4 linked regions of the Homo sapiens genome follow. The protein of the gene in region 1 purifies or fractionates together with the protein of each later gene. This does not show direct contact. Each region holds a gene or a part of one and is shown in the gene's direction. Other genes may lie near its edges. The genes, in order: SCN2B, OPA1, THADA and FASTKD1.

The links.
Region 2: the proteins of SCN2B (region 1) and OPA1 purify together in Homo sapiens (affinity purification with mass spectrometry; 4 studies listed by BioGRID and IntAct, with this or other methods). This does not show direct contact.
Region 3: the proteins of SCN2B (region 1) and THADA purify together in Homo sapiens (affinity purification with mass spectrometry; 4 studies listed by BioGRID and IntAct, with this or other methods). This does not show direct contact.
Region 4: the proteins of SCN2B (region 1) and FASTKD1 purify together in Homo sapiens (affinity purification with mass spectrometry; 4 studies listed by BioGRID and IntAct, with this or other methods). This does not show direct contact.

Annotation. Positions count from the first base shown.
Region 1 is NC_000011.10:118,173,260-118,181,142, reverse strand, and holds the start of SCN2B (sodium channel regulatory subunit beta-2 precursor), read left to right. Parts: upstream 1-4,503; 5' UTR 4,504-4,711; coding exon 4,712-4,781; intron 4,782-7,883. UniProt on the Homo sapiens protein: Regulatory subunit of multiple voltage-gated sodium (Nav) channels directly mediating the depolarization of excitable membranes.
Region 2 is NC_000003.12:193,609,290-193,617,207, forward strand, and holds part of OPA1 (dynamin-like GTPase OPA1, mitochondrial), read left to right. Parts: intron 1-5,433; coding exon 5,434-5,752; intron 5,753-6,384; coding exon 6,385-6,481; intron 6,482-7,888; coding exon 7,889-7,918. UniProt on the Homo sapiens protein: Dynamin-related GTPase that is essential for normal mitochondrial morphology by mediating fusion of the mitochondrial inner membranes, regulating cristae morphology and maintaining respiratory chain function.
Region 3 is NC_000002.12:43,571,507-43,579,424, reverse strand, and holds part of THADA (tRNA (32-2'-O)-methyltransferase regulator THADA), read left to right. Parts: intron 1-817; coding exon 818-912; intron 913-2,182; coding exon 2,183-2,403; intron 2,404-4,397; coding exon 4,398-5,089; intron 5,090-6,432; coding exon 6,433-6,611; intron 6,612-7,562; coding exon 7,563-7,718; intron 7,719-7,918. UniProt on the Homo sapiens protein: Together with methyltransferase FTSJ1, methylates the 2'-O-ribose of nucleotides at position 32 of the anticodon loop of substrate tRNAs.
Region 4 is NC_000002.12:169,570,490-169,579,033, reverse strand, and holds the start of FASTKD1 (FAST kinase domain-containing protein 1, mitochondrial), read left to right. Parts: upstream 1-5,168; 5' UTR 5,169-5,365; exon of another isoform or gene 5,366-6,038; intron 6,039-6,862; 5' UTR 6,863-7,004; coding exon 7,005-7,381; intron 7,382-7,865; exon of another isoform or gene 7,866-8,030; intron 8,031-8,544. UniProt on the Homo sapiens protein: Involved in the down-regulation of mitochondrial MT-ND3 mRNA levels which leads to decreased respiratory complex I abundance and activity.

The DNA of each region.
Region 1 (7,883 bases):
ACCCTGGGCACAAATGCCAAAACCACAGGGCTTCACTCCTAAAAAAGCACATCTTTGACACTGGTGTCTTCATTCGGCAAAACACCTCTTAGAGCTGCTGCTTCCCAGACTTTCACTGGCTCCTGGGGAAGGCTTACTCTTTCGGAGCAGATGGGTGTCTGGAGGCCCAAGTGGGTTGTGGGGAAGTTCCGGGGTAGCTCTCCCCCTCTCTTGCCTTGGCTCTGCCTGCTACTGCCCCTCACCCTTGATCTAGCTCCTCCTGACCCTTGGTCCTGGGGGGCTGAGTTGGATGAAGACTGTTCTAAGTCTGGATACGTAGTTTCTCTTTGCTGAATTCTGGATAGAAACAGATCTTCTGGATCCACTTCTTGCCTCAGATGCCCCCAAAATAGGAGCTTCTGGACCTAATGTGAGACCAAGTGAGACAGGCAAGCAGCTTCCTTCAGTTTCTGGGCCTCACGGGCACCCTCTGCTGCATTAAGAAAAAAAGAGGAGGCCGGCTACGTCAAACCAAAAATCTCTGGCAACGGGGCAGAGCTGACATGTGTCTGCGGCAGCATGGATGGCTGTGCTGCAGAGTGGGACTTGGCAGTGCACGCCTAAGCGGGAGCTGAGGCCCGGCTTGTGCCAGTCCACCCCTCCGGGCACAGCTGTGAGCTGCTGACAGCGGGGTAGACCTCAGGGCCGGAGGGCACTGGGGATGGGGCCAGGCATGGCCACTGAAGGAGACTTTTCTTCCAGGCTGCCCCACCTCTCCTTCCCTGCAATTCTGCCCTGTGGGCCCTGTGTTTTGTGAATGGGCCAGCCAGAGCCAGACCCTAGGGATGGGACAGAGGCACTTGGGGACAGAATCTGTGTGTGATCTGGGCAGGGACAACCACAAAGGGCTCTTAGACTACCCACCCTTCTGCCTTCTGGCAACTCTGCCTCAAATCCCTGGCCCCCTTGCTCCTCCCCAGCCCAGAACAGCTTGAGAGGCCTTGGAAGGATTTCATTTCCTCCGCAGTGTCTACTTTCCTCCCTTAGCTCTCCAGATTCATTAATTCACTCAGGTGTGCCCCTGTACAGTCATTCACCGTCTGCTGACGAAGTTTCTGCCCTGAGCCAGGCACTGTGCTGGATTCTCACTGTTTCTCCATAGCCTGCCTCTTAGCCCTTGCTTTTATGTCACCTGCAGGGGCTAATTGCTTCATGTGTCTTGTTGGTCTTCTCTTCCCTGTGCCTTTCTAGACAACCTGGAGGTAGCTCCATTTATCCTTCCCTTGGTGCTAAGCAATGTGGAATGCTGGAGACACCCAGAGTTTCACGAAGACCTTGGTTTGAATCCTGACTCTGCCCTTAAACTCTCATATGTAAACTTGGGTGGGTTGAGCCCCATGAACCTCTGTTTCCTCATTTGCCACTAGAAAAAGAATAGGCCGGGCGCAGTGGCATATGCCTGTAATCCTAGCACCTTCGGAGGCCAAGGTGGGCAGAGCACCTGAGGTCAGGAGTTCGAGACCAGCCTGGACAACATGGTGAAACCCCGTCTCTACTAAAAATACAAAACTTAGCCAGGCATGATGATGGGTGCCTGTAATCCCAGCTACTTAAGAGGCTGAGAAGGGAAAATTGCTTGAACCTGGGAGACGCTGGTTGCAGTGAGCCGAGATCACACCACTGCACCTCAGCCTAAGCAGCTGAGTGAGACTCCGTCTTAAAAAAAAAAAAAAAAAAAAAAAAAAAAAAAAAAAAGAATAAAGGCCAGGTGCAGCGACTCATGCCTATAATCCCAGCACTTTGGGAGGCCAACGCGGGAAGATCACTTGAATCCAGGAGTTCGAGACCAGCTTGGCCAACATAGTGAAACCCTGTCTGCACTAAAAATACAAAAATTAGCTGGGCGTGGTGGCAGGAGCCTGTAATCCCAGCTACTTAGGAGGCTGAGGCAGGAGAATCACGTGAACTTGGGAGGTGGAGGTTGCAGTGAGCCAAGATTGTGCCACTGCACTCCAGCCTGGGCCACAGAGTAAGCCTCTGTCTGAACAACAACAACAAAAGAATAAAGAGAAAAAGAAAAAGAAAAAAGAAATTATGGTGGCGGGAACCTGTAAACCCAACTACTCAGGAGGCTGAGGCAGGAGAATCACTTGAACCCGGGAAGCGGAGGTTGCAGTGAGCCAAGATCATGCCACTGCACTTCAGCCTGGGCCACAGAGTGAGATTCCATCGCAAAAAAAAAAAAAAAAAAAAAAAAAAAAAAATAATAATAATAATAATAATAATAAAATAAATAAATTAAAAAAAAAGAAAAAGGAAAAAGAAATCACCTATCCCAGGGTTAAGATTAAACTGACAGGGTGGGGGCGCGGTGGCTCACACCTGTAATCCCAGCACTTTGGGAGGCTAAGGTCGGTGGATCACGAGGTCAGGAGTTCAAGACTAGCATGGACAAGATGGTGAAACTCTGTCTGTACTAAAAATACAAAAATTAGCCAAGCATGGTGGCAGGCATCTGTAATCCCAGCTACTTGGGAGGCTGAGGCAGGAGAATTGCTTGAACCTGGGAGGTGGAGGTTGCAGTGAGCCAAGATCGCGCCACTGCACTCCAGCCTGGGAGAGAGAGCGGGACTCCATCTCACACACAAAAAAAGAAAAGATTAAACTGAGATACCACAGGCTGAGCATGGTGGCTCACGCTTGTACTCCCAGCACTTTGGGAGGCTGATGCAGGTGGAACACTTGAGGTCAGGAGTTCGAGACCAGCCTGGCCAACATGGTGAAACCCTGCCTCTACTAAAAATACAAAAAAATTAGCTGGGGGTGGTGGCACGTGCATGTAGTTCCAGCTACTCTTGAGGCTGAGACACAGGAATTGCTTGAACCCAGAAGGCAGAGATTGCAGTGAGCTGAGATTGCACCACTGCACTGCAGCCTGGGTGACAGAGCGAGACCCTGTCTAAAAAAAAATAATAAAATAAAAAAATAAAAAATTGAGATATCACATGTAAAGTGCTTGGCACAGAGTTTATGCTCAAAAATATTAGTTGCTCCCTGTTTGGTACACAAAGGGCCCATCACAAATGCAGGTGACTGCTGCATGCGAATCTCTGCCCTACTTAACCATCTCCCCAGGAGTATGGGGGTCACCTCTGCTTAGGACCACCTTGGACTCCACCCACCAAGTTCTCCTACTTATGACGTTAGCTTATTTTTTCTTCCTTCTTCAAAAGAAAAGTTTTAAACATACACAAAAGAAGAGAGAACTATATGACAAACCCTTTACACCCATCACCAGCTAGTTTCAATTATCAAGCAAAACAACTAGTCTCGTGTCACCTATTCTCCCATCTCTTTTTTTCGTTGAATATATATATATGTATTTTTGAGATGGAGTCTCACTCTGTGGCCCAGGCTGGGATGTAGCGGAGTGATCTCGACTCACTGCAACCTCCGCCTCCCAGGTTCAAGCAATTCTCCTGCCTCAGTCCCCCCAAGTAGCTGGGATTACAGGCACACGCCACCACACCCGGCTAACTTTTGTATTTTTAGTAGAGACAGGGTTTCACCATGTTAGGGAGGCTGGTCTCGAACTCCTGACCTCAGGTGATCTGCCTGCCTCGGCCTCCCAAAGTGCTGGGATTACAGGTGTGAGCCACCCCGCCCGGCCACCCATGTGTGTCTTTAACAGATAGAGATGTTAAAGGACAAAACCACATTTTATCAGACCCAACAAAATTAAGAATGATTCATTAATACAATCTACTATGTAGTTCATATTTAACTTTTCCCAATTGTCTCAAAAACTTTTCTTTCCTGTTGATTTGTTTGAATCAGGTTTATCCAAAGGCCTGTGTTACATTCAATTGTAAGATCTCTTGGGTATTTTTCTATCAGCCTGCTTCAACATGTTCTGTTTTCAGAGGAAACGCTAGAATGAGGAAAGCATTACCCCTTGAAAGTCTCTCCAACTCACTTTCCTGAACCCTTTTCAATAACACAAAAACAAGCATCTCCTTTTTTTTTTTAGGTTTTTTTTTTTTTTTTCCCTCTGGAGGCAGGGCCCAGGCTGGAGTGCGGTGCAGTAGCTGGGACAAGAGGCATGCGACATTATGCCTGGCTAAATTTTGTATTTTTAGTAGAGATGGGTTTTGCCATGTTGCCCAGGCTGGTCTTGAACTCCTGGACTCAAGCAATCCATCCGGCCTCCCAAAGTGCTGGAATTACAGGTGTGAGCCACTGCGTCAGCCTGGGGGTGTTTTTAAATGATAAAAGGTGTTTCCCTTTCCAGAATCTTTAAAATAAATGGATTCCTCTAATAGCTTTCAAAATCCAACAATCATCCCAGTGAAGTCAAAAAGCAGGGTTTGTATTATTTCTTGTTTTAGAGGGTAAAAATTTCTGGGATTTTGTTCTTTTCAAAATGACTTTTTTATGCCCTCCCACCTGCTTTTTGAAATCCACCAACCACAATATTTACCCCATCCCCCTTTTCTCTCCCCCCCATCTCTCTCTCTCTCCTTTACACACTCCCTCTCTCTCTCTTTTTAGCAGCAACATACAAGCCGGCCATATTAGAGAGATGGAAATAAAGCTTCCTTAATGTTGTATATGTCTTTGAAGTACATCCGTGCATTTTTTTTTAGCATCCAACCATTCCTCCCTTGTAGTTCTCGCCCCCTCAAATCACCCTCTCCCGTAGCCCACCCGACTAACATCTCAGTCTCTGAAAATGCACAGAGATGCCTGGCTACCTCGCCCTGCCTTCAGCCTCACGGGGCTCAGTCTCTTTTTCTCTTTGGGTAAGTTAGACACATCTGCATGCTCCCGAGGGTTCAGAAGTGTAGCCGCAATGTGAAGAGGATGGGGGCAGGGGATAGGAAAGAAGACATTGCTAGCGCTTTCCCTCTGTGTCCTTGGGAGGGGAGGTGCTGGGGACTGGAAGGGACGTTGCTGGGGAGTGCAGAACCCTGGGACTACTTAGTCACAGAAATGTTGGGTCAGGGGATCTGAGTGTTGCTGGGGGCTGACAATTGTCAAGGGAGGTGAATCTTCTCTGGATTTCCCCTAAGTGGACCTACGTGGCGGTGGGGCAGAGAGTGGATTGACCTGCAGTCTCTTCAGGGATTATTTTTTGGAGTTGCTGCAAATGCGGGGTCCTGGGACTTAATGCTCCCTTAAGGGGCTTCTTTTCAGAAGCTTGATCCTGGTGGATTTAGGGTATTAGGAGAGTGTGCAGGGGAGCTGGTGGCAGAAAGTTGAGTCTGGGTCTGGCTTCTTGGCACTCGGTCTCACTGATCTGTTGGAACGTGTGTGGGAGTAGGTGGGAAGCGGGCTTGGGGAATGATGTCTGGGTTGGGAGGAGACCTGCTGAGGCACGCACTGATGGAGAAGGCACCTTTGGCTTGGGCCGGATGGAATGGAGGAAGGGCCAGGTGTAGAGATTCAGGAAAAAAATGGAACCCACAGGCTGAGCGAGGTTGCAGCCCTTTAAATCCAGCCTCAGAACTGCCCAGCCCAGTCTTGCAGACTGTCCTGTCAAGTGTTTGTATTTGACCACTCAGAGACTTCCTGGTGGGGAAGTGGGCTAGAAAGTTATTTGCAAGCCTGCTTTGTAGAGTTTCATTCTTGCTCCTAAACTTACTTATTGCTGGAGCAGCAACTGAGAGTCAAGTCCAAGGACTGTTGATGGAACTATTCCCCACCACAAAGGCTCTCTCTCTTTCTGTGGTGTGATGTGCTGGGTTTGGAGTAGGAGTGCTAAACACAGACAGTGCAGAGGCCCTGCCAGCCTGCTTTGCTGAGTTACTTGGCATATTAACATCAGAGCAGGAATGCTATGGAATCTCTGGCAGGACCTGGGTTTCAAGCCACCTTTGTCATTTACGTAATGATCACAGGCAAGTTACTCAACCCCTCTGAGCTTCAGTTCCCTCCCGGGTAAACTAAAGAATGCCTACTGCCTGACGTGTTTGTGATTTGGTGCATGGCAGGAACTCAACGATGGCTAACATAAGAATGCTTTTCGTGAGCCCAGGCACTGTGTATCTTGTTTAGCCCTCACAGCAATCGGAGGTAGATTCTATTATACTCAGGTTACAGGGAGGAAACAGATGACTATGGTAACGGGAGCTGAAATTTGAACTCCCTGTGTCTGACTTCAGCACATTCTCTTAAACGTTGGATTCCACTCCCCAATGTTCAAGAAATGGCACTGCTATATTAACAGTACCTAATTGATCAGAGTCTCAGGACAGGCTGAAAGAAGGGGAGTTGGGTGAGTGGCCTGTTGTAAGGAGGCCCAGCTGGAGGACAGGACCCTTTCCTCAGGAGTTAGGAAGCACTTCGTGCAGGAGAGAAGCCGCCTGGTGAGAGCCATGGCTAAGTAAAGATAGAAAGGGGGCTCAGTGACCAGGACCCAGAGCTCTGGGCTAGGGTGAGGAAGAGGGAGTCTGCGATGAAGAGGTCTGAGTGTTTGGGGTGGGGAGATGGTAGTGGGAGGAAGCTAAAGCTTCTGCAAAGCTGAGTGGGAGAGGATGCAGGAATGGGGACCTTGAACTTGAACTTGATTGGTGCTGTAATGAGGCATGTCCCTGGCACTCCAATGCTGAGGGCCGAGTTGACAGTGGAACTTTGGTGGTGTTGCAGTAGCATCGATCCCCAGGATGGAGGATGCCACAAGTGACGAGGGAGGGGACTCTGTCGGGGCTGGGCTTGTGGGGATGACTATGGAGGTGGCAAAGAGAAAGGGCAGGTGGGCAACCAGCTCTACCCACGGCAGAAGCATATGAGGCTAGTTTTAGCCAGAAACAATTCAAATGACTGGGCTTCCCTCAAGTTTTTCTTGAGACCGTTGACTCCACAGTCACTGGCCTGCTTACCAATGTATGGATTATGTTAGTGGAGGCATAGAAAGTGGAGTCTGGGCTGAGCATGGTGGCTCACGCCTGTATCCCAGTGCTTTGGGAGGCCGAGGTGGGAGGATCGCTTGAGGCCAGGAATTGGAGACCAGCCTGGACAACATAGCAAGACCCTGTCTCTACAAAAAAAAAAAAAAAAAAAAAAAAAAAAAGAAAAGAAAAATAAGCCAGGCATGGTGGCATGTACCTGTAGTCCTAACTGTTCCAGGAGGCTGAAGAAGGAGTATCAAGAGTTCCAGGCTGCAGTGAGCCGTGATCATGCCTCTGCACTCCAGCGTGGGCAGCAGAACCAAACCCTGTCTCTTAAAAAAAGAAAGAAAGAAAGAAAGAAAGAAAGTGAAGTCTAGTCCTCACTCTAGCCCACTGCACATATCTGCTGCTTGTGGTGGTGGGGACCCAGACATGGAGAGAAAGCTGTCTCTTCTTCCTTTAGTAGACTTTATTGAGTCCCCACTCTGCCACACACTGTCCTGGGTGCCAGGGATACCAAGATGAATAGGAGTCAGTTCCCCGGAGCCTCTAGAGGGAAACAGGCCCATGAACAAATAATAACAAGACAACATTGTATGTATGGCAACAATAATAGCAATAATGCTCATCATAGTCGCAGCTGACTTTTGTCCAGGCCATGTGCTAGGCACTGTGCTGAGCTTCATACAGGTAGTAAGTCATTTAATCCTTCGACAGCCCTATGAAGTTGGGCTTATTGTCCCCTATATTACAGATGAGGAAACTGAGGCACTGGGAGGTTAACTATCCTGCCATTCTGCCCTCAAGTCATGTGGAAGAGATAGGAACAGGGCTGGGGTGAGGACAAGGACAATGGGGAAACAGTCACCGAGGCTAATGCCCTGTAAGCTGGGACCTGAAGAATAAGTAGGAGGGGCCCAGGGGCAGGAGGGCAAATGAGCTTCTCAACCTGAAGCAAAAATACGTGCAAAGGCATGGAGAAGGGAAGGAAGGTGGTGTTTTCAGAAAAAATCA
Region 2 (7,918 bases), on another chromosome or scaffold:
CTTATGAAGCTTAGTTTGGCTGGATATGAAATTCTGGGTTGAAAATTCTTTTCTTTAAGAATGTTGAATATTGGCCTCCACTCTCTTCTGGCGTGTAGAGTTTCTGCCGAGAGATCAGCTGTTGGTCTGATGGGCTTCCCTTTGTGGGTAACCTGACCTTTCTCTCTAGCTGCCATTAACATTTTTTCCTTCATTTCAACTTTGGTGAATCTGACAATTATGTGTCTTGGAGTTGCTCTTTTCGAGGAGTATCTTTGTGGCATTCTCTGTGTTTCCTGAATTTGAATGTTGGCCTGCCTTGCTAGATTGGGGAAGTTCTCCTGGATAATATCCTGCAGAGTGTTTTCCAACTTGGTTCCATTCTTCCCGTCACTTTCAGGTACACCAATCAGACGTAGATTTGGTCTTTTCACATAGTCCCATATTTCTTGGAGGCTTTGTTCGTTTCTTTTTATTCTTTTTTCTCTAAACTTCTCTTCCCGCTTCATTTCATTGATTTGATCTTCCATCACTGATACCCTTTCTTCCAGTTGATCGAATCGGCTACTGAGGCTTGTGCATCCGTCACGTAGTTCTCGTGCCTTGGTTTTCAGCTCCATCAGGTCCTTTAAGGACTTCTCTGCATTAGTTATTCTAGTTAGCCGTTCGTCGAATTTTTTTCAAGGTTTTTAACTTCTTTGCCATGGGTTCGAACTTCCTCCTTTAGCTTGGATAGTTTGATTGTCTGAAGTCTTCTTCTCTCAGCTCGTCAAAGTCATTCTCTGTCCAGCTTTGTTCCGTTGCTGGTGAGGAGCTGCATTCCTTTGGAGGAGGAGAGGTGCTCTGATTTTTAGAATTTTCAGTATTTTTGCTCTGTTTCTTCCCCATCTTTGTGGTTTTGTCTACCTTTGGTCTTTGATGATGGTGATGTACAGATGGGTTTTTGGTGTGGATGTCCTTTCTGTTTGTTAGTTTTCCTTCTAACAGTCAGGACCCTCAGCTGCAGGTCTATTGGAGTTTGCTGGAGGTCCACTCCAGACCATGTTTGCCTGGGTATCAGCAGCGGAGGCTGCAGAACAACGAATATTGGTGAACAGCAGATGTTGCTGCCTGATCGTTCCTCTGGAAGTTTTGTCTCAGAGGGGTACCCGGCCATGTGAGGTGTCAGTCTGCCCCTACTGGGGGGTGCCTCCCAGTTAGGCTATTCGGGGGTCAGGGACCCACTTGAGGAGGCAGTCTGTCTGTTCTCAGATCTCAAGCTGTGTGCTGGGAGAACCACTGCTCTCTTCCAAGCTGTCAGACAGGGACATTTAAGTCTGCAGAGGTTTCTGCTGCCTTTTGTTCGGCTATGCCCTGCCTGCAGAGGTGGAGTCTACAGAGGAAGGCAGGCCTCCTTGAGCTGCAGTGGGCTCCACCCAGTTCGAGCTTCCCAGCTGCTTTTTTTACCTGCTCAAGCCTCCGCAATGGCGGGCACCCCTCCCCCAGCCTCGCTGCCACCTTGCAGTTTGATCTCAGACTGCTGTGCTAGCAATGAGCGAGGCTCCATGGGCATAGGACCCGCTGAGCCAGGCGCGGGATATAGTCTCCTGGTGTGCTGTTTGCTAAGACCATCGGAAAAGCGCAGTATTAGGGTGGGAGTGACCCAATTTTCCAGGTGCTGTCTGTCACCCCTTTCCTTGGCTAGGAAAGGGAATTCCCTGACCCCTTGTGCTTCCTGGGTGAGGCGATGCCTCGCCCTGCTTTGGCTCATGCTCGGTGCGCTGCACCCACTGTCCTGCACCCACTGTCTGACAATCCCCAGTGAGATGAACCCAGTACCTCAGTTGGAAATGCAGAAATCACCCGTTTTCTGCGTCGCTCAAGCTGGGAGCTGTAGACTGGAGCTGTTCCTATTTGGCCATCTTGGAACCGCCCGATTGTGATTTAAAATGAGAACGAGATGGTCCCTTTGGTTCCTGGTCCCTGTAACTGTTGCAATTGAAGGGGCATAAGCTTATTAGCCTTTTGAGGTTTTTTTTGCTCTAGAGTCTTCTCAAAATGCTTAGCTAGGTTGGGCACGATGGCTCACGCCTGTAATCCCAGCACTTTGGAAGGCCAAGGTGGGAGGATCACGAGGTCAGGAGATCAAGACCATCCTGGCTAAGATGGTGAAATCCCATCTCTACTAAAAATACACAGATTAGCTGGGCATGGTGGCACACGCCTGTAGTCGCAGCTACTCGGGAGGCTGAGGCAAGAGAATTGCTTGAACCTGGGAGGCAGAGGTTGCAGTGAGCCGAGATTGCGCCACTACACTCTAGCCTGGGTGACAGAGCAAGACTCCACCTCAAAAAAAAAAAAAAAAAAAAAAAAAGTTCAGCTAAGGCCACCAATTCAGTCACATCTCTAACTTCCCATTGCAACTTATGTTTTTTAGTTAAACTGCTAAGTTCAGGATGGAGTCCATTTATAAGTAAAGCAGTTAATGCTGTTTCAGCCCCTGCAGGGAATACTCCTTGCTGTACTTTGAGCCCAGGATGTTTCACAAATATTTCTAAGCGACTTCTGTAATCTGAAACTGGTTCATCTTTTCTTTTCTTTTTTTTTTGCTTACAAGATTGTATGATGGACCAATTTTTTGTGGAAAAATTTTAGGAACTGAATGTTAAAAGGTTTTCAGCGATTTTTCTAGCTATTTTTGGTCCTTCTTGTGAGGAGCTCTTAGAGGGCCCTTTAAAATGTCCTCCTCAGGTTTGTCCCATTCTGCTGCTGCCATCCATTTCTGAGCTTCACCAGCCCCCAGTATCATATGAATAAATTGGTAAATTCATGAAGTCCTGGATCGTAAGCTCCTATTAGGATTCTAAATTCCTCAGTAAATTTTTGAGACTTTTCCCTTGGACCAGGGAAGTCCTTCACAATGGGGCTAAGCTCAGTTTTAGACCATGGAGTGAAAGTAGTTACAGCAGGCAGGCCTGGCTGATATAAGGTCTCACTTTGTAAGACATCTGTCTAACTTCCTTTTTTTTTTTTTTTTTTTTTTAAATCATCTTCAGGGTGAAAGTGTAATTTAACAAAAAGTTTAGTGGACTCAGAGTATGTAGGTAGAGATGGACAAAGAAGGAACAGTCCGAGTTAGATCAGTCAAAGTACAGTCCTCTTTCTTCATGTCCTTGGTCTGTTGCTTAAGCTTTTCATTTGGTTTTTGCAAAGAATCTTTTAAGGAGGCACTTTTTGATTCACTTAGTCTTTTGGAGGCCTTTGCGTATCCATGAGACAATACATCCCACTGTATTTGTGGGGGCTTTGATCCCCTTTTTCTAATATGCCTTGCAAACAATTTTATCCAAATTAAAACTTCTCCATTGTGGCCATTTTAATTCTAAGTTTTCTTTAGTGAGGTTAACCCATTTTACTGAAAATGCACATGTTCTGGGCCCATAATTTTTATACGTAAAATTAGCTGGAGTCCCTGAAGATGGAGTCCCAGACTCCTTGGATTGAGATGATCCCATTATTAAATAAGGTACTTATCAGAGGTCTGAGGCCTCTAACTGAATCCAATCCAGTTAATTATCAAATCCAATTTGATCTTGGATCCAGTCCAGGCTAAGTATTGCTTGAGTAAACTCGGAGAGCTCAAAACACAAGTTAGTGGAGCTCGGAATCTGAGAGAAAACTCACCCATGACCTCCAGTTACAATCAAGAGACCAGTGAGAGCAACGGCCTCAGTGGGTACCTCACCAGGTCACCTGGTGTTCCAGGGGGTTGCCAGAGTTTTTCTTCAAATCCCACTTCTGACACCAGATCTGTTAAAAGAAAACTTCAGACAAGTTAAATTTGATGGAGTTTAATTAAGCAAGGAAAATAAACACTTTGCAAATCAGGCAGCCTCCAGAATTGAATGCAGTTTGAACACTTAGCAGTCTATTAGTGCTTGAAGTATGGCCACTGGGATTGGCCAACACTCAGCTATTATTACAGATGCATACTACTCAGGTTTTCCATTTTGTCTGCCTATTGTGCTAGGTTATGGTTTGTCCACAAGAACACAAATATAGAAGTATGGAGTCCTTCTCAGGCCATATTTAGTTTGCTTTAACAATACTTAAAAAAAAAATTTGTAAAATAAGGATACTTAACCTTACTCGGTGTTTCTGAGAGTTAACATTTATATAGTTATGCTGTAGTGAAAACAGCTAGCGTAATGTCTGGTATGTATAGGAACACAAGAGATACCGCTTTTCCCATATCCCCATACCATTCTTCACAGCATTGCTCCTGTCTTCCTTGATTCCTCCTCCTCCTTCTTTGTTTTTTTTTTGTTTGTTTGTTTGTTTTTTTTTGGAGGTGGAGTCTCACTCTGTTGCCCAGGCTGGAGTGCAGTGGTGTGATCTCAGCTTACTGCAACCTCTGCCTCCTGGGTTCAAGTGATTCTCCTGCCTCAGCCTCCTGAATAGCTGGGATTACAGGCACACACCAACACACTCAGCTAATTTTTGTATTTTTAGTAGGGATGGGGTTTCACCATGTTGGCCAGGCTGGTCTTGAACTCCTGACCTCAGGTGATTCACCCACCTCAGCCTCCCAAAGTGCTGGGATTACAGGTGTGAGCCACCACACCCTGCCTCCTTCTTAAGAAGTTTCCAGTCCCTTGTAATTAAAGGAATTAATATTTTTTAACTACTTAGAATCAGACTGGCCCTGATTATTAGTAAGCAACTAATAGTAAGCAAGCAACTATGTATGCAACTATGAGTGTATGTTAAGATATGGTTGTTGGTAACCTTTCATTCTCTTCAGGAAGAAGAAGAGGGTGGAGCTCTACAGTCAATGTGTACATTTAAATTCTGTTCCCTTTCGAGCTTTTTTGCTACTTTCATTCTTCTGGGGATCCAGGTGCTTGAGTTGGGATTGATTAACTTCCTTAATTTCCACCCCTGTGCTGTCAGGATCGGGAGACATAGATGAAGGTGTTCTAAACTGCTAGAAATTTTGTTTTTGAAAGCAAAAGTTTGCATGCATTTTTGTTTTCAACTTTTACTTACAGTGAATAGTAGTTAATAAAATAAGTCCCTGCCTTTTCTCTCTTTGGTTTCAATTCCTGAGACCAGGATCATAGCCCACATATTAGAGTGGAGTCCCACTGCTTTGGTTTGAATCATGCCTTTGTTTCTTATGTCAGTGTGACTTTGGGCAAGTTATTTAAGTCTTTGCACCACATTTTCCTCATCTGTAAAATGAGGATAATACTAGTACTTTCTACATGGGATTGTTAGCAGGATTAAATGAGATAGCACATACTGTAACCATGTCTGGCACATAGTCAATGGTTAGTAAATGTGAACTATTGTGTGACATTGTGGTTAGTCACGTATGGGGCTGTGTTTCCTTTAGTATATTGCTCTTTTAATGTCATTTCCTTTGTACTGTTACCCTCTCTGATCTTTCTTCCATATTCATTTTTCTTTCAGTGAGGTCTGCCAGTCTTTAGTGAAACACAGCTCTGGAATAAAAGGAAGTTTACCACTACAAAAACTACATCTGGTTTCACGAAGCATTTATCATTCACATCATCCTACCTTAAAGCTTCAACGACCCCAATTAAGGACATCCTTTCAGCAGTTCTCTTCTCTGACAAACCTTCCTTTACGTAAACTGAAATTCTCTCCAATTAAATATGGCTACCAGCCTCGCAGGAATTTTTGGCCAGCAAGATTAGCTACGAGACTCTTAAAACTTCGCTATCTCATACTAGGATCGGCTGTTGGGGGTGGCTACACAGCCAAAAAGGTGAACTTGACATTCCTCCTGGTTTTCCAATTATTATATCATGATTAAGTTTCTATAGCATAAATCATTTTTGTGTAGTGGAATACAATTGGATGTTTAAACATTTATTTTGTGTCTCTACCATGGACTAGATTGTTTTAATGATGCTAATAGGAAGATGCCTTTAGAATCTTAGTTATAATTACAGGAAATTAAAATGGCCTAGTGGAAGGAGCACAGGGCTGGGAATAGGAACACCTAGGTTTGATTTTGAGCTTAGACATTTAGTAGCACAGATGTGAAAGTCAGGTGGCATTCTCACACAAGCACTTCTTGGCAGGTCTGGGACCAGAGGCAAGGCGTCCTGTCTCCCAGTCTGTCTTCCTTCTACCCCACAGTAATATTTAGGGCAAAATTATGAAACCTGTTTGAAATAGGAGTATATTCTGAATTTTTACATTTTCCATATTTAACAGAGGAGTGTTAACTTGTTTTATATGCTTGTTTGCTGAGACCACTTAATTTTGTTTCTTAAAAGTTTTGAACATAATACATTATTCTTAGTAGATTAATGTGTTTTAATTAAATAATTTTTCTTTACATGTTTATTTGGCATGCAGAGCATCTGATTGACACACTTTCTTGTCTTTTAGACTTTTGATCAGTGGAAAGATATGATACCGGACCTTAGTGAATATAAATGGATTGTGCCTGACATTGTGTGGGAAATTGATGAGTATATCGATTTTGGTTTGTATCATGAACATTAAAATACTTTTTTTGGTCATCTCGAGGAAAGAGAAATAGTTTATTGAGATAGTTTCTTAACTTATGAACCTAATATATCACGGTTTTATTTTAATGATATAAGTAATAGAATATCAATGAAAAAATCTGTATAAAAGAAATACCCAGTAGCCCATAATTTTACCACAGCTGCCACTAACTGTTTGGAGCATTTTCTTTTAATTATACTTACTATATGTGGTTAGTATCTTTTTAACTTATCGATTGAGACAGGATCTTGCTCTGTCACTCAGGCTGAAGTGCGGTCTTGGAATCATAACTCACTGCAGCCCTGAACTGGCTAAAGTAGTCCTTCCGACTCTGCCTCCCAAGTAGCCGGGACTACATGTGTGTGCCACCATGCCCGACTGATTTTTTAATTTCTTGTAGAGATGAAGTCTCACTATGTTGCCCAGGCTAGTCTCAAATTCCTTAGCTCAAACCTCTCACCTCAGCCTCTCAAAGCACTGAGATTACAAGTGTGAGCCACTATGCCTGGCTTGAGTTTTTTTCTTTTAATTTTTTTCTTTTCATGAATACTACCACAGAATAGTATTTTAGTTCCCTTTTTAAAAATTATGTAATCATGGTGAATATTCACTTTGGTATTTTGTCTTTTGCTACCTAACATATTTTGTCAGCATTTCCATGCTGCCAAGTAGCCTTTCTATTAATAATATCATTTTCTGCATTATGTAATGTTGCCCAGAGCATATTTATTGTGACCCACCTAGCTAGCTCCTTTTGATTGGATACCTTGGTTATCTCTACCTTTTGTAGCCAAGTTCTTTAAAAGTCTGTTAGTATCCAGGGTAATTTCTTTTCTTAGTTGGCCACTGCCCTCCCTTTTTCAATAGGTGGATGAGAAAAAAGTATATTGGATCGCTATGATTGCCAGTAATTCATGGTGATCTTTAAGAAATATATTTTCATCAAATTTTTTTAAAACCTTTGTCAGATTTCTTAGTTTAGGTGTATGTGGAGGTGGAATTAATCTATACTTGCACTTATTCACAGAATTTATAAAGATAAAACTGTTCTATGTTGACGAATCCATTTGCAAAAAAAGCACACTTTCAAATTGTTCTTCTAATATTAATGAGGAGAGCTTTCAAATTGATGTATTTGCCAGTACCACAGCGTAGTGGCTGAGAGCCTGTATTCTGGAGCTGGACTGCCTGGGCTGGAACCCGGGCTCCTCCACTTCCTTGCTGTGTACCTTAGTTTCTCATCTGTAAATGGTGTTGATAATAGTAGCTGTTTTGTAGGGTTGTCATGAGGATTAAACAAGTTAATACTTTAGCCCTTTATAAGAATAGTATCTGACATATTTTCTTAGTTTCATACTCTATATGTTTTGATCTTTTCCAGAGAAAATTAGAAAAGCCCTTCCTAGTTCAG
Region 3 (7,918 bases), on another chromosome or scaffold:
AAGATACCAAGTCAAAACTGTTTGGTTGCTATGGGTACAGTGTCAGTGCTAGCAAAGTTTGTAATTAGCACTTACCTACATTCTTTATACAAGCCCTGAAATCTCTTTTTGAAAAAGTCTGTGTATATGGTGATTGGGATACAGAGGCATTGGTGGAGGGGAGGGGACAGGTGGTGTTGCTGTTAGGTGTTTTGGGAAGCAATAGTTGGCGAGGAAGAAAGTGTATGTTAGAGGAGAGAGGAAGGAATCACGTTTATTGAGTATCTATATGCTGGGCTTAAAAGCCTTTATATTCAGCCGGGCACAGTGGCTCATGCCTGTAATCCCAACACTTTGGGAGGCCGAGGCAGGCGGATCACAAGGTCAAGAGATCGAGACCATCATGGCCAACGTGGTGAAACCCCATCTCTACTAAAGATACAAAAATTAGCTGGGTGTGGTGGCACGCGCCTGTAGTCCCAGCTACTTGGGAGGCTGAGGCAGGAGAATCGCCTGAACCCAGGAAGTAGAGGTTGCAGTGAGCTGAGGTCACGCTACTACACTCCAGCCTGTCAACAGAGTGAGACTCCTTCTAAAAAGCGTTTATGTTCATTATTCATCTAAACCTGACACTGCCTCAGTTAAGAGTTATCCCATTTTACCCAAGAGAAAAGAGAGTCTGTGGGATGTTAAATAACTTAGGTAAGACCTATTCACCCAGGAAGTGGTCAGACTAGAAATTGTACCCAGGCCTATCTGGCTGCTCAGCATCTGCTCTTTCCACTCTACCAGAATATTCATTATTTAACACAAGCTTCTCTCCTTTTTTGCCAAATAGATGATCTGTTACAGACTGTACAGAGCACATCTGGATTAGCTATTATTCTTTTTATTAAGACTATGTTTCACCCGTCTGAAAAGATTCCTCATTTGGTAAGTGCATCTCCTTTTTAGAATTGTACTTTATTGAGAGTTAGGGTATGTTTAAAAAATAATTTTGGCTTGGTGCAGTGGCTCACACTTATAATCCCAACACTTTGGGAGGCCAGGGCAGGAGGGTCACTTGAGGCCAGGAGTTTGAGATTAGCCTGGGGAGTTTAGCTAGACCTTGTCTCTACAAAAAAAAAAAAAGAAAATTTGCTGGGTATGGTGGTGCACAGCTGTAGTCCCAGCTCTTTGAGAGGTTGAGGTAGGAGGATCGCTTGAGCCTAGGAGTTTAAGGCTGCAGTGAGATAAGATTGCACCAGTCTGGGCAACAGAGTGAGACCTTGTCTCTTAAAAAAAAAAAAAATTAAAAATATTTTTAAAGAAGTGAATTAAAATAATTTTTTTTTGCATTGTCTGGTTCCTTCTGATGACCTTTTTCTGTTATAATAAGAGACAATTCCAAAAATTCAGATAAAGCAACAATAACAAAAAGACAATAACAGTCACCTGTAAGTCCATCTCACAAAGATAATCACTATAAACATTTTTGATGTACATTCTTTTAGTTTCTTTTTAGTGCTGTTTGTTCAGTGTCATCTCTCATTAGTATCTTAAAAGATATTTTTAATGTTAAAATTATGCATATCAATGTATAGATATATACACAGTAATAACTTTTCTGATAAATGTATTCTTTATTGAGAATAACCCAAATCATGTGCTTTAGACAGGAAGCATGCTAGATAGAGTCAATTGTTCAGTAAATTTGCTTCTTACAGAAAGTATAATTTGATAATTTAGGCCACAATCCTTGTATTTTTTACTAGTAGATTTCTTTTTTTGCTTGCTATATTGTATGGAAACTTATTTTATCTTTTTACCTGACCTTAGAAAAATATATTATGAGATCACACAAAGTAATTATCTTTGGATAAGTCGAAGATGTTTATTTCTCAAATCACCTCTAAAAGCATTTGTTTAAAAAAAAAATACATACCAAAAAAAAAAAGCAGTTGTTAAGCTTATCCACCTGCAGGTGGCGATGTGTTGTGCTCTGCCAGTACATTCCAACCAGCAAAATCATTCTCGTACTTGATGTAATTTTTTTCCTTTAATACTAATACAATAATCATGACATTTGTGGGTATTTTATCTTTGGATTTAGTCATTTTTCCTAGGATTTTTCAGGGGAAAGAGATGTTTGGGTTTGTATTTTGAAATATCTCTGAAAAGTTTTAAAAGCTTTATGTGTGTTAGCTCTGCTATATTTTTCCAGATTAGCAGTGTGCTGCTTCGTTCAGTGGACTGCACCAGTGTCCCCGAGTGGTTTATGAGCAGCTGCAGGAGCCTCTGTTGTGGTGACATCTCTCAGTCAGCTGTCTTATTCCTCTGTCAGGGGACACTTGCCATGTTGGACTGGCAGAACGGAAGCATGGGTCGGAGTGGGGAGGCCCTGCTCTTGGATACTGCACATGTTTTGTTCACCTTGAGTTCACAGTGAGTTTTGATGCTATCGTCTCATATTTTGTTTCACTTGTAAGACATTTAGAAGATGCAGTCCAAAAGCTGGAGTGGCTTGTGCCTCTAATCCCAGCTACCCTCCCAGTAGGCTGAGGCAAGAGGATCACTTGAGGCCAGGAGTTCAAAACCAGCCTTGGTGACATAGTGAGACTGTGTCTGTACAAAACTTTTAAAACTTAGCTGGGTGTGGTGGCATGCGCCTGTAGTCTCAGCTACGTGGGAGGCTGAGGTGAGAACATTGCTTGAGCCCAGGAGGCCGAGGATGCAGTGAGATATGATTGTGCCACTGCACTCAAGCCTGGGCGACAGAGTGAGATCCTGTCTTAAAAAAATAAATAAATAAAATTATTGCTGCAGGTTAGCCTGTAAAGAACATTTCTAAAATTAATTTTTAACATTTTCAATGTTATCGTTTTTAAAAACTATAAAAATTTTTATATGTATAGTGTTTTAGAATTTATAAAGAACTTCAACATAGGTAATCTAATGTGATCCTCAAATGGCTACTATATAGGATAAGAAATCTAATTTGTTGAATGGGCAAAGGGAGGCTTAGAAAAGTAAATGCTTACCTGAGACCATATTGCTAATAAGAACCTGAAACAGCAATCTTAGAAGGTCTTCTGACTTCATGGGGCTGTATTTTGTATTTTTGTGGTGTTTTTGCCATAATGGCTGAAAGTGATCATGTATATGAAATGTCGAAACATATATACAGCTTGATAATACTGAACATATGAATAAAGGAGGAAAACTAAAATAATTTTTTACATATTTGAGCTATATTATGCAATTCATAAATTTGAAGTGTACAATTCAGTTTATTAGTTTATTCACAGAGTTGTACAACCACCAGCATTTCTAAAATTAATTTTTAATATTCTCTTTGCTATATTTTTTCTTTAAAAATTTTTTTCCTGAAATTTGTTTTTAGCATCATTTTTTAAAACTATAAAAGTTTCTACATGTGTAGTGCTTTAGAATTTATGAAGCACTTTAACATAGGTAATCTAAAGTGATCCTTATCAACATTTCTGAAATGAAGTTTTAACATCTTAAAAGTTAATTCAAACAACTTTAGAATATTTTTATCACAGAGAAGCCCCATTCCCCCAACCATCTCCAACACTTGGCTTTCCTTATCTTTTAAATTACATGTGTAGGCCGGGCATGGTGGCTCAAGCCTGTAATCCCAGGCTTGCAGATCTCAGGCAGGTGGATCACTTGAGGTCAGGAGTTCAAGACCAGCCTGGTCAACATGGTGAAACCCTGTCTCTACTAAAAATACAAAAAATTATCTAGGCATGGGGGCATGCGCCTGTAATCCCAGCTACTGAGGCGGCTGAGGCAGGAGAATCGCTTGAACCTGGGAGGCAGGGGTTGCAGTGAGCCGAGATCGCACCACTGCACTCCAGCCTGGGTGACAGCAAGACCCTGTCTCAAATAAATAAATAAATAAATAACTTGTGTAATCATCACAGTCAAGGTAGTGAATATTTCCATCATCCCCCAAATTTCCCTATGTCCCTTCCTGGACTATTATTATTTTTGAGACAAAGTCTCGCTTTGTCACCCAGGCTGGAGTGTAGTGGCATGAGCACAGCTCATTGCAGTCTCACTCCTGAGCTCAAGCAATCCTCCCACCTCAGCTTCCCAAGTAGCTGGGACTGTAGGTGTGTGTCACCACACCCAGCTAAATTTTTAAATTTTTTATAGAGATGGGGTTTCACTATATTGCCTAGGCTGATCTTGAACTGCTTTCTGGATTATTTTTTACAAGGTAAAAAGAATCATATACAAATTTGAGATCTGTTTTGGCTTTACTTGTAGTTTTTTGTTCTTGTAAATTTAATAATTGAAATTTGTGGTCATTCTGTGTATTTAATATTTTTAAAGTCTAAATTGTTATAAAATGAAATTTCTTTTACTAATCAGTTTACAATAATGGCTCATGGCTCATTTTTCTTCAGGATTAAAGAGCCAACGCTGGAAATGTTTCTGTCTAGAATCTTAGCATCCTGGACTAATTCAGCCATACAAGTCCTTGAATCAAGTTCCCCGAGCCTAACGGACAGCCTGAATGGGAATTCAAGTATAGTTGGGAGACTTTTGGAATATGTCTATACCCATTGGGAACATCCATTGGATGCTCTGAGACACCAAACCAAAATCATGTTCAAAAACCTTCTCCAAATGCACCGGCTCACTGTGGAAGGTGCAGATTTCGTCCCTGATCCTTTCTTTGTGGAATTGACTGAGAGTCTTTTACGATTGGAATGGCATATTAAAGGAAAGTACACGTGCCTTGGTTGTTTGGTAGAGTGCATAGGAGTTGAACATATTTTGGCTATAGATAAAACTATTCCATCTCAAATCTTAGAGGTGATGGGAGACCAGTCATTGGTACCTTATGCAAGTGACCTCTTGGAAACCATGTTTAGAAATCATAAGAGTCATTTGAAATCCCAGACTGCTGAGAGTTCTTGGATTGACCAGTGGCATGAGACTTGGGTTTCTCCTCTCCTTTTTATATTGTGTGAAGGAAACTTGGATCAAAAATCTTACGTGATTGATTATTACTTGCCAAAATTATTAAGTTACAGCCCTGAAAGCTTACAGTACATGGTAAAGATTCTTCAGACTTCTATTGATGCTAAAACTGGTAAGAAAAATGCATTTTTGTTTTAGTAGTTTCTAATTATGATGCTTAAATGTAGGTAGCTATGCAGATACTAATCATATTCAAATTTAAATATCACTTCTATAAATAGTAAAGGAAGAGATTAATGATAGATGTTTCAGTTTGAAACGAATGTTCCTATATATAGCTGAATGGAGTTTTTTGGCTGAAGTCATTTCTACAAGCTAAAGAATAATTCCACTTAAAATGATAAACTTTCCTGTATTACAAGGTTTTAATTCATTTTTTCAAGTTCTGAATTTATTTTATTGTATCACTGAAATAAAAGTTTGTGTGTCTTATATAATGTGCTTATTCAAGTCATTGAGACAATAATTAAAAATTGTGTTAGGCAAGGTTAAAGACAGGTAACTTGGCAGTAGCAAGTTTTTTTCTCTGGGGAAGTGACAAAATTCAGAGGCATGATCTCAAGAAATAGCCATCTATAGTTATTTAGAATAGGGGTAAACATCCCATTGAAACTCACAAACCCTACAGGAATCACTGCATTCAAGCATAATTCAGGATGTGTAAAGTGATGATCATGACACATCATATAAATCTTAAAATTATTACATTCTGTTTAACAAAGCAAGAATGTAGTATCGTACAGCATAATTTTAAGAAATATTTTCAACTAAAATTGTTAAAAACGTTCAGTACTTCAAAGAGTAACCATGAGGTAGCAGGAAAATTTGATTCCTGTATGCAAAAATAAGCCATTATTTGTAATTTTTGACAACACTTGTTCTTGAGTTTTTGAAAAGCCATCTGAAATTCAGGATTCAAGAATCTGTTCTGAAGTAAGGTTGTCTTTATTTTTATATCAAGCTGCCCTGTCTTCTTGGTAATGGCTGACGTCCTAGCCTCTGAAACCAGCAGGCTCTTTGTGTTCCTTTTTTAATCTTTACTAGTGAGAAACAGCCACTCTAAAATATGCAGAGAGGTTCAGTGTTTACTTTTAGAGAAGTAATAGTCTGTAGCCACTGATGTGCTTATTTCTCCACCTGATTTTATTTCCTGATTTGCTGCCTGATTCCCTTTCTAGGTGTTAGGGAAAAAGCAAAAATGTTAGCAGGTAAATAATGATTTGTTTATGTTAACGATAAGAGAATTATGCTTACTTGAAATGATTGACAAAAGGGCAAATCATATTAAATAATGATTATTTTAGAATAGGAACTTTAATTTGTGTTAGAAATGAGTTTAAAATGTGATTTTTATTTATTGAAATAAAATGTTAATTGGAAACATGAAAATTAGCAGCTGATAATTATAGTAGTCATTGCATAATACAGTAATGGTCTTTGTTATTGTGCTTTCAGGACAAGAGCAATCTTTCCCATCCTTAGGGTCTTGTAATAGCAGGGGGGCTCTGGGAGCTTTGATGGCATGTCTGCGAATAGCTAGAGCTCATGGACATCTTCAGTCTGCAACTGATACCTGGGAGAACCTCGTGTCTGATGCAAGAATAAAGCAAGGCTTAATTCATCAGCATTGCCAAGTAAGTAAAGAAAATTACCTGGATTTGTACATGCAGTAGATCCCTTTCATGTAGCAGTTCAATATAGAGGCCCCTACATTGTATCCTGAACTGTTTTAGGGAGTTCATAAAGAGAATGAGTAGAAACCCTAGTCTCCCAACTAAACTTTCAGTAGGCCCTTTCTTCAAGCTACTGAAAGTTTAGTTGAGGATGTAAGAAAACTTACATAAAACAACTGGAAACTCTTAGAACTGACAATACAGATACAAGCATGCCATCATGTGCCCTTAAATACATAAGGACTCGCTTGGAAGGCTCAGAAGAGACTGATCAGAGCAGGTGGTGCTTGATTAGGAAAGTGATAGATATGATTAGAAAAGAGGAAGCCTTGGAGCAGCATACAAAATGGAGGGACCCAAATGAGCAAGGTCTGGAGGATGATTAAGAACATTGCTTATCAGGGGTGGAGTGTTTTGGACATTTTTTGGAAAGGCCTAATGCTAGGCTAAAGACTTAGTTGGTTCCCAGGCACCAGCTGGTTTTACTAAGCTAAACCAAAGCTACTCTGTTTTCAGCAAGGAGTTACATTAGTGGAAACGTGAGTTTCCAGAGTGGGAGCAGAAAGAAACCAGGAAACCAGTTAGAAGTGTCTGGCAGTAATTTAAGAGTGAGGTGATGGGGTAAAAGGGGTCACTGGAAAAAAAGAAAAAGGAATGAAGCTGAGCATTACCACGGAATAAAAATCTTTAAGATTGTTGCATTTTATAAATCCCCAATTTACATGTTTAATAAAAGAATTGTATAGGAAATAACCCTAGGATCTTTGAGATTAGGAAACCTTTCTGAGGTACCTATTGGTGAACTGAAGTTTACTTTTTTCCTTTTGTAGCCTATGTAAGTAAGCAATTCAAGTGATTTAGGCTTTGCTTATTTCTTGGAAAATTAACATTTTATTGCTTGATGTTTTTTAGGTAAGGATAGATACATTAGGCTTGCTTTGTGAAAGTAATCGGAGCACAGAAATTGTTTCCATGGAAGAAATGCAGTGGATTCAGTTCTTTATTACATACAATCTTAACAGCCAGTCTCCAGGAGTGCGGCAACAGATCTGTTCTCTTCTTAAAAAGGTAGAATTTCCCATCAGAAGGCATAGGGAAGTGGTGAACTTTGTTTGGGAAATCGTTTTTAAAAAGAGCCCAGATTTTGGGAGCGTGTGGGAATGGTCATGGAATTGGGCTACCACATCTGTTCATGACGGCCGTTCTGTGACCTGTTCTCTCATTCCATAAAGCTTACATTTGGGATTAAAATCCAGAGTGAAAAGCAC
Region 4 (8,544 bases), on another chromosome or scaffold:
TTATTGCAGTGGTCGGGCTTCACCTGGTGTTGGTAATTTATGTCTTCATAGTGTGGAAGGAGGGCTTGCCTCAGTGGTGGGAAAACAAAACTGAATAGAGCAGCTTTTCCTTTGGAGTGGCAAACGTGGGGGGTAGGCAGGTACCTAAAGGGTTTTTCTTTTTGTCTCTTGTTCACATTAAATGTGATTTACCTCCCACCCCCTGAAAGGTGGATGGGGAGGACAATTAAGTATTTACCGCAGCTAAGATTTTAGAAAAAATGAGGATGGGGAGGGTGACATTTTTCAACCATCTGTTAAGTGCCAAGTGCTTTTTGTTAATGACATATTTTTGACTAAGGATCATGTTTGACTGATGTAATTTTTTTTTTTTTTTGAGACAGAGTCTCACTCTGTTGCCCAGGCTGAAGTGCAGTGGTGCAATCTCGGCTCACTGCAACCTCCGCCTCCCAGGTTCAAGCGATTCTTCTGCCTTAGCCTCCTGAGTAGCTGGGACTACAGGTGCGTGTCACCACTCCCGGCTAATTTTTTTTTTTTTTTGTATTTTTCAGTAGAGACAGGGTTTTGCCGTGTTGGCCAGGCTGGTCTAGAACTCCCAACCTCAGGTGATCTGCCTGCTTCAGCCTCCCAAACTGCTGGGATTACAGGTGTGAGCCACGGTTCCTGGCCTGGCTGATGTAAATATTAATGCAAAAATTGGAAGCTAAGATGAAAGTAACACTAATTAGTAGGAGTAGAATTTATTTCATATTAAAATGTATTGTGGTGTAATTTTTTTGTTGTCGTTGTTGAGACAGAGTCTTGCTCTGTCGCCCAGGCTGGAGTGCAATGGTGCCATCTCGGCTCACTGCAACCTCCGCCTCCCGGGTTCAATTGATTCTTCTGCTTCAGCCTCCCAAGTAGCTGGGACTTCAGGCATGCACTACCATGCCCGGCTAATTTTTGTATTTTTTTTAGTAGAGATGGGGTTTCACCATATTGACCAGGCTGGTCTCAAACTCCTGGCCTTGTGATCCATCCACCTCAGCCTCCCAAAGTGCTGGGATTACAGGCGTGAGCCACCACACCCAGCCTGTGTTGTAATTTTTATGGCTTGGCTAAAGCAACAGTTTTCAGAGTGCACCCTCCTTGGTGCTACTCACAGAGATGTGATGTGCTGTTGCTGCTTTCTAACTCTGCCTACTTTGTGACCTCTTAAGAGGATGAAGTTGATAAAGTAAACCAGTGTCAGTGGCTAAGTCTAGAAGACCTAGAAAACATAGGAATAGGTCCTGAACCTATTGCTCTTGCGATTGCACTGCAGACATCAAGAAGCAGGTGGCTATTTCCACACATTGAGATCTATAATTCGCAATCCCGAAGATGATGGAAAAAATACCCCTTGGTGCATTGCAGAGATGCTACAAATCACCAAGCAAGCCATGGGATTGGCTGTACCTTTAATTGAGAAAAAAAACTTGAGAAGAAGAGCAATAAAACTCACGAGGACATCATTGGTATCAGATCTCAAAACCACGGCTCTTTGGTTGAGGGAAACAATTTTTTAATGAGTAAATGTTCATCTCCAAACCAAAAAGTGAAGTAGACCGTATTCCCCAATGTAAATATTGGCAACCTAAGAAAGCTAGGAAATTTTACAAGACTTGAAACGAAAGTTAACTTCTTTTTTTCTTTTTTCTTTTTTTTTTAAGACCCAGCTATCAGAGACTTTCTATGTCTTAGCAGCCTCCTGATAAAGGAAGTCAAATGACCAATCAAGTTTTTAGTGAAGAAATCCAATCAGGCCAGGTGCAGTGGCTCACGCCTGTCATCCAAGTACTTTGAGAGGCCAAGGCTGGGGGATCACTTGAGGTCAGGAGTTTGAGACCAGCTTGACCAACATGGTGAAACACCTTCTCTACTAAAAATACAAAAATTAGCTGGGCATGGTGGTGCATGCCTGTAGTCCCAGCTACTTGGGAGGTTGAGGCAGAAGAATTGCTTGAACCCAGGAGGTGGAGATTGCAGTGTGCTGAGATTGGGCCACTGCCCTCCAGGCTGGGTGACAGACTGAGACTCCATCTCGAAAAAACAAACAAACAACTATTTTAGTTTTGATGGCTTAACCATTCATTCCCTATGTCTTCATGGTTAATTGAAGGTTACTGACAGTAGACAAAAAATGTATTCTCATTTGACTCTAATTTTTCCCATATTCTACTTGAACAAATTTAAAATGTTCTGCTGCCTATACACCCCGACATCTAGGAGTATTAAGACTAGTCAGTCATAAAATAAACCTGATACATCAGATGAATGCCAGCACCTATTCAATTTCGTTTTGCTCTGTTTTCAGAAATGTCAGAATAAATATATATTGGTTACTGGACATTCTAGAAGGAAGTCTTCAAGTTTTAATTTTTTTCCAGTGTGAGCATGCCTCAACATTTTGCATAGACTGTCAGAACTATTGAAAATTTAGGCTGGGCAAGGTGGTTCATGCCTCTAATCCCAAGCACTTTGGGAGGCTGAGGTGGGTGGATTGCTTGGGCCCAGGAGTTCGAGACCACCCTGGGCAACGTGGGGAAACCCTGTCGCTACCAAAACTACAAAAAGTTAGCCAGCTATGGTGGTGTGCACCTGTAGTCCCAGCTACTCGGGAGGTTGAGGCAGGAGAATCGCTTATACCCAAGAGGCGGAGGTTGTAGTGAGCGGAGATTGCACTACTGCACTCCAACCTGGGAGACAGAGTGAGACCCTGTCTCAAAAAAGAAAAGAAAAGAAAATTGTGCTAAAACTGGTTTTATGACAATAACCATGACCACATAAACCAAGAGTCTCCTCTGTAACCCACACAATAAGAAAGTTGCCCCCTCTCCCTCTCCCTCTCCCTCTCCCCACGGTCTCCCTCTCCCTCTCCCTCACGGTCTCCCTCTCCCTCTCTTTCCACGGTCTCCCTCTGATGCCGAGCCGAAGCTGGACTGTGCTGCTGCCATCTCGGCTCACTGCAACCTCCCTGCCTGATTCTCCTGCCTCAGCCTGCCAAGTGCCTGCGCGCTGCCACGCCTGACTGGTTTTCGTATTTTTTTGGTGGAGATGGGGTTTTGCTGTGTTGGCGGGGCTGGTCTCCAGCTCCTAACCGCGAGTGATCCGCCAGCCTTGGCCTCCCGAGGTGCCGGGATTGCAGACGGAGTCTCGTTCACTCAGTGCTCAATGGTGCCCAGGCTGAAGTGCAGTGGCGTGATCTCGGCTCGCTACAACCTCCACCTCCCAGCCGCCTGCCTTGGCCTCCCAAAGTGCCGAGATTGCAGCCTCTGCCCGGCCGCCACCCCGTTTGGGAAGTGAGGAGCGTCTCTGCCTGGCCGCCATCCCATCTAGGAAGTGAGGAGCGTCTCTGCCCAGCCGCCCATCGTCTGAGATGTGGGGAGCGCCTCTGCCCCACCGCCCCGTCTGGGATGTGAGGAGCACCTCTGCCCGGCCGCGACCCCGTCTGGGAAGTGAGGACCGTCTCTGCCCGGCCGCCCCGTCTGAGAAGTGAGGAGACCCTCCGCCCGGCAGCCGCCCCGTCTGAGAAGTGAGGAGCCCCTCCGCCCAGCAGCCGCCCCGTCAGGGAAGTGAGGAGCGTCTCCACCCGGCAGCCACCCTCTCCGGGAGGGAGGTGGGGGTCAGCCCCCGCCAGGCCAGCCGCCCCGCCCGGGAGGGAGGTGGGGGGGTCAGCCCCCCGCCCGGCCAGCCGCCCCGTCCGGGAGGGAGGTGGGGGCGGTCAGCTCCCCGCCCAGCCAGCCGCCCCGCCCGGGAGGGAGGTGGGGGCGGTCAGCCCCCCGCCCGGCCAGCCGACCTGCCCGGGAGGGAGGTGGGGGGGTCAGCCCCCCGCCCGGCCAGCCGCCCCGTCCGGGAGGGAGGTGGGGGGGTCAGCCCCCCGCCCCGCCAGCCGCCCTGTCCGGGAGGTGAGGGGCGCCTCTGCCCGGCCACCCCTACTGGGAAGTGAGGAGCCCCTCTGCCCGGCCACCACCCCGTCTGGGAGGTGTACCCAACAGCTCATTGAGAACGGGCCATGATGACAATGGCGGTTTTATGGAATAGAAAAGGGGGAAAGGTGGGGAAAAGATTGAGAAATCGGAAAGTTGCTGTGTCTGTGTAGAAAGAAGTAGACATGGGAGACTTTTCATTTTGTTCTGTACTAAGAAAAATTCTTATCCTGTTGATCTATGACCTTACCCCCAACCCTGTGCTCTCTGAAACATGTGCTGTGTCCACTCAGGGTTAAATGGATTAAGGGCGGTGCAAGATGTGCTTTGTTAAACAGATGGTTGAAGGCAGCATGCTCCTTAAGAGTCATCACCACTCCCTAATCTCAAGTACTCAGGGACACAAACACTGCAGAAGGCCGCAGGGTCCTCTGCCTAGGAAAACCAGAGACCTTTGTTCACTTGTTTATCTGCTGACCTTCCCTCCACTATTGTCCTACGACCCTGCCAAATCCCCCTCTGCGAGAAACACCCAAGAATGATCAATAAAAAAAATAAATAAATAAAATAAAAAAAAGAAAGTTGCACAGCATATTCCAACAAATATCAGTTTGGTACCTTTAGAGCCTTACTTTGTTGTAGTGATTATCAGCTGAAAATTATGTCTGTTGTAACTTTGGTAAGCATTCCACTTTGGTTATTTATTAGTGGTATTTTTTTTTTAAGTGTCAAGTGTCAAATCTTGGGACTATTAAAATACCATGGTAAGTAAAAAAAAAATATGGTCTGAGAACTGGTACCTATCCACGACATAAGTGCAGAAACTGAGAGTATGAGTTTGCATACTTTCAAAGTTACTCGACAGAGTTATTTCGTATATGCTAAAAAATAATAAGAAAAATCTGTACGTGTCTTTTCCATGTTTACATTTTTAAATTTCATTTTCCTAAGTATATTTTTGTGTATATTATAAAAGTAGTAGACTTCCAAGGACTAGGAGAACAACCTTAGATAGTAGAGAATCACCTAAACGACCTATATCTTCTTCAACAGCTTAAGCTGTGTACTGCGCTAGAGCCTCCCTCAATGAGGAACTACAATGCCCAGAATTCCCCCAAAATGCGTGAGCGACGTCCATTTCACCCACCTCGCCGCGACCCACCCTGGGATATGTAGTGCGTGACTTCCGCAGTGCACGCTGCGCCTGCCGGGCATTTTTTCCTGGTTTGGGGGCAAGGTCTCATGGGAAAGGTCATGTCTCTCGAAGAAAGGTTATAAACCCTGAGATATGAGGGTTGGGCGAGACATCCGAGCCTGTTTCGTTCCGTGTTGGGACCAGGAATAACCCTGACTTCTGAGCTTTCATAACCCCAGGATCCTCCAGAAAATTTGCGGCGCGCTGAGGGAAAACCTTGCTGGCAAGTCGGGACTGTGTGGCAGCGGCTATTTTTCTTTTCCCACCCAGCACGTTTTCGGGCTGGGGACATAGGGTTCAGTTGAGATACGGAGGCTTCCTTCGGGATATTGGGTTCTCTGAAGTGCGGATGGACTAGGGCAGGGCTGAGACCCCATTCATTCACTCATTTGTTTAGCTCTCCTTTATGCCCGGCGCAGAAGATACCCCTTAGGGTCCCAAGGCCCTTCCTGTAGTTAAGTTCCTTCCTTAAGGTCATTCAGCTGGGGCAAAGCTGGGGACTCGACACCTTTCTATGCTAACCATTGAGCTGCCTCCACTTTGAGCAGCTCAGTGGATGAATATAGTATCTTGAGGATACCTTTGATTTGTGCAGGGTTTTCTTGTGCAGGTTTGTGACCCAGGTCAGCTTAGGTCAGGATGCTGTACTGCTTGCCACAAAATAGCCTGTACTGTCGCGTCGTTTTTTCTTGTGAACAGACTGTTTGGCATAGCCGTAGAGAGGGGTCTGAGACATGAATTTAGTGATACAGCGTTGATTTGTTTGTGTAATGAAGCTGTTCAAGTGGAAAGAACTGAGTTGTAGTCCCTGCTTCACTAGTACTAGAAGGATTTTTTAAACCTTTTTGAACCTATTTTGCCTTATCTGTAAAATGGAAATAATATCAACCTGGAAGGTTAGCTGAGAGAATTTAATGAGATAATGTGTTTCAAACGTTCTTTGTAAATGGTAACATGTTGCAGAAATATTAGATTATATGACTTTAGTCCCTGCTTTTCTAACCATTACTTCTCAATTATAAATGTAAACATTTATAGCATATTTTTAAAACAAATTATTCTTTTTTCATAATTATCTTTAGTTCTTTTATTGTTTCAGCATGACTTGAAACATTACTTAATTTCTTAGTATTTCTTGATTGGTGCTTTAATTGTGTCGTTCATTGGTTAAAACCTATCCAAGGCCAGTAATGATTAAATTATATGACTTCTTTTATTTATTTATTTTCTAAAGAAAGGAATTATTTGAGCTCTTTAAGGGCACAAGAAAAAGGGGCAAGAAATTATCCTGAAAGCAAATAAACCTGAGACCATACTTCTGAAAAATTAAAAAAAAAAAGTATATATATATGTATGTATAAATATATATGGCTCTGAATTAATGCCTACACTTTTTAGAAACTTTGAAGGTGATTATTTATTTTAAACAATTTTCCTCTTTTTCGAAAAGACAGCTCTGAGTTTGTGGGCTTTTTTTTTCCTTTTATGGTAAATTTGAAAACTTTATGTAAATGTCAGATTTAAAACACTTTTAAAATGGGGTGCAGAAAGAAGCCCCTTTTTCTGGACATTTATTTTTTGATCAAATTCTGCTATCTGGTTTAGACTAAGAAAAAGTCTTTAGTTAATGCAGAAAAAATGTATTACTTTAATTTGAATTTTGGAATCATTTTGATATTAATGATGTAAGCATAACCATGTTAAACCAATTCTTTTATAGAAGCTGTACATTGGAATGCGTTTACAGTCATTGTAATGGAAGCAAAATACATGAAGGAAAAACTGTTATTTGTATCCCTGCTTATTGCACCTGACGACTAGTTGCAGATGGTTTTGTTTACCTAAGAAAACTTGTGATATAAATGAAAAAAACACCTGTTTTCCTAGAGTCATTGGTTACAAATATGCTTCGTCTAAGAGCTATTTGTCCATTCTCCTGGAGAGTGTTTCAATTTCGACCCATCAGTTGTGAACCACTAATTATTCAGATGAATAAGTGTACAGATGAGGAGCAAATGTTTGGTTTTATTGAAAGAAACAAAGCCATACTTTCAGAAAAGCAAGTGGGATGTGCATTTGATATGCTTTGGAAGCTTCAAAAGCAGAAGACCAGCCTGTTAAAAAATGCTGAGTATGTCAGAGACCATCCTCAATTTCTTACTCTTCATAATTTAGCTACAAATAAATTCAAATTAATGAATGACGATACCCTGGTGAATGTGTTATACGTCACACAACAGTAAGTAATTTACTTTTATATTTTATGGAATGATTATATAGTTTACATTTTAATTTTCTAAAAATCTCTTTATTTTCATTTTATTTATTTATTTTTGAGGAGTCTCTGTCGCCCAGGCTGGAGTGCAGTGGCATGATCTCGGCTCACTGCAAGCTCTGCCTCCCAGGTTCACGCCATTCTCCTGCCTCAGCCTTCCGAGTCAATGGGACTACAGGCGCCTGCCACCACGCCCGGCTAATTTTTTTGTATTTTTAGTAGAGACGGGGTTTCACCATGTTAGCCAGGATGGTCTTGATCTCCTGACCTTGTGATCCGCATGCCTCGGCCTCCCAAAATGCTGGGATTACAGGCGTGAGCCACTGTGCCAGGTCTAAAAATCTCTTCAAAATGAAAAATAATTTTTTTCACCAGTAGTTTTCCTGATAATCTAATTTTTTTGTTTTGTTTTGTTTTGTTTTGAGGCGGAGTCTTGCTCTGTCACCAGGCTGGAGTACAGTGGCACAATCTTGGCTCACTGCAACCTCCGCCTCCCAGGTTCAAGCAATTCTCCTTTAACAACTGTAATACTATTGTTAACTGTGGGCATTTGAAATTGGATTATTGTGGAGTTTTGTGAAAATGTGGTTGGCTGCAGATGAGGATATAGTAGGTAAGCAGTTAGATTTAAGATTAATGCCAGTCGGGTGTGGTGACTCACACTTGTAATCCCAGCACTTTGGGAGGCTGAGGTGGGTGGATCACCTGAGGTCAGGAGTTCAAGACCAGCCTGGCCAACATGGTGAAACCCTGCCTCTACTAAAAATACAAAAATTAGCTGGGCGTGATGGCAGGCACCTGGAATCCCAGCTACTCTGGAGGCTGAGGCAGGAGAATCTCTTGAATTCACGTGGTAGAGGTTGCAGTGAGCACAGATCATGCTACTCTACTCCATTCTGGGCGACAGAGTGAGACGCTGTCTCCAAAAAAAAAAAAAAAAAGTAATGCCTAATAACAATCAGCAATTAGTAAATTTTGTCTGTGATAACTTGTTTGCAATCTCGTTATTGTAATTAAATGGACGGCACATATGTTTTCTAGGGGGTATTGGTACAATAGGTTGTTTCTCAATAATAGCCCTTAAAAGGAAAAAGAAATAAAATGATTTTGTAGATTCATTTATATTT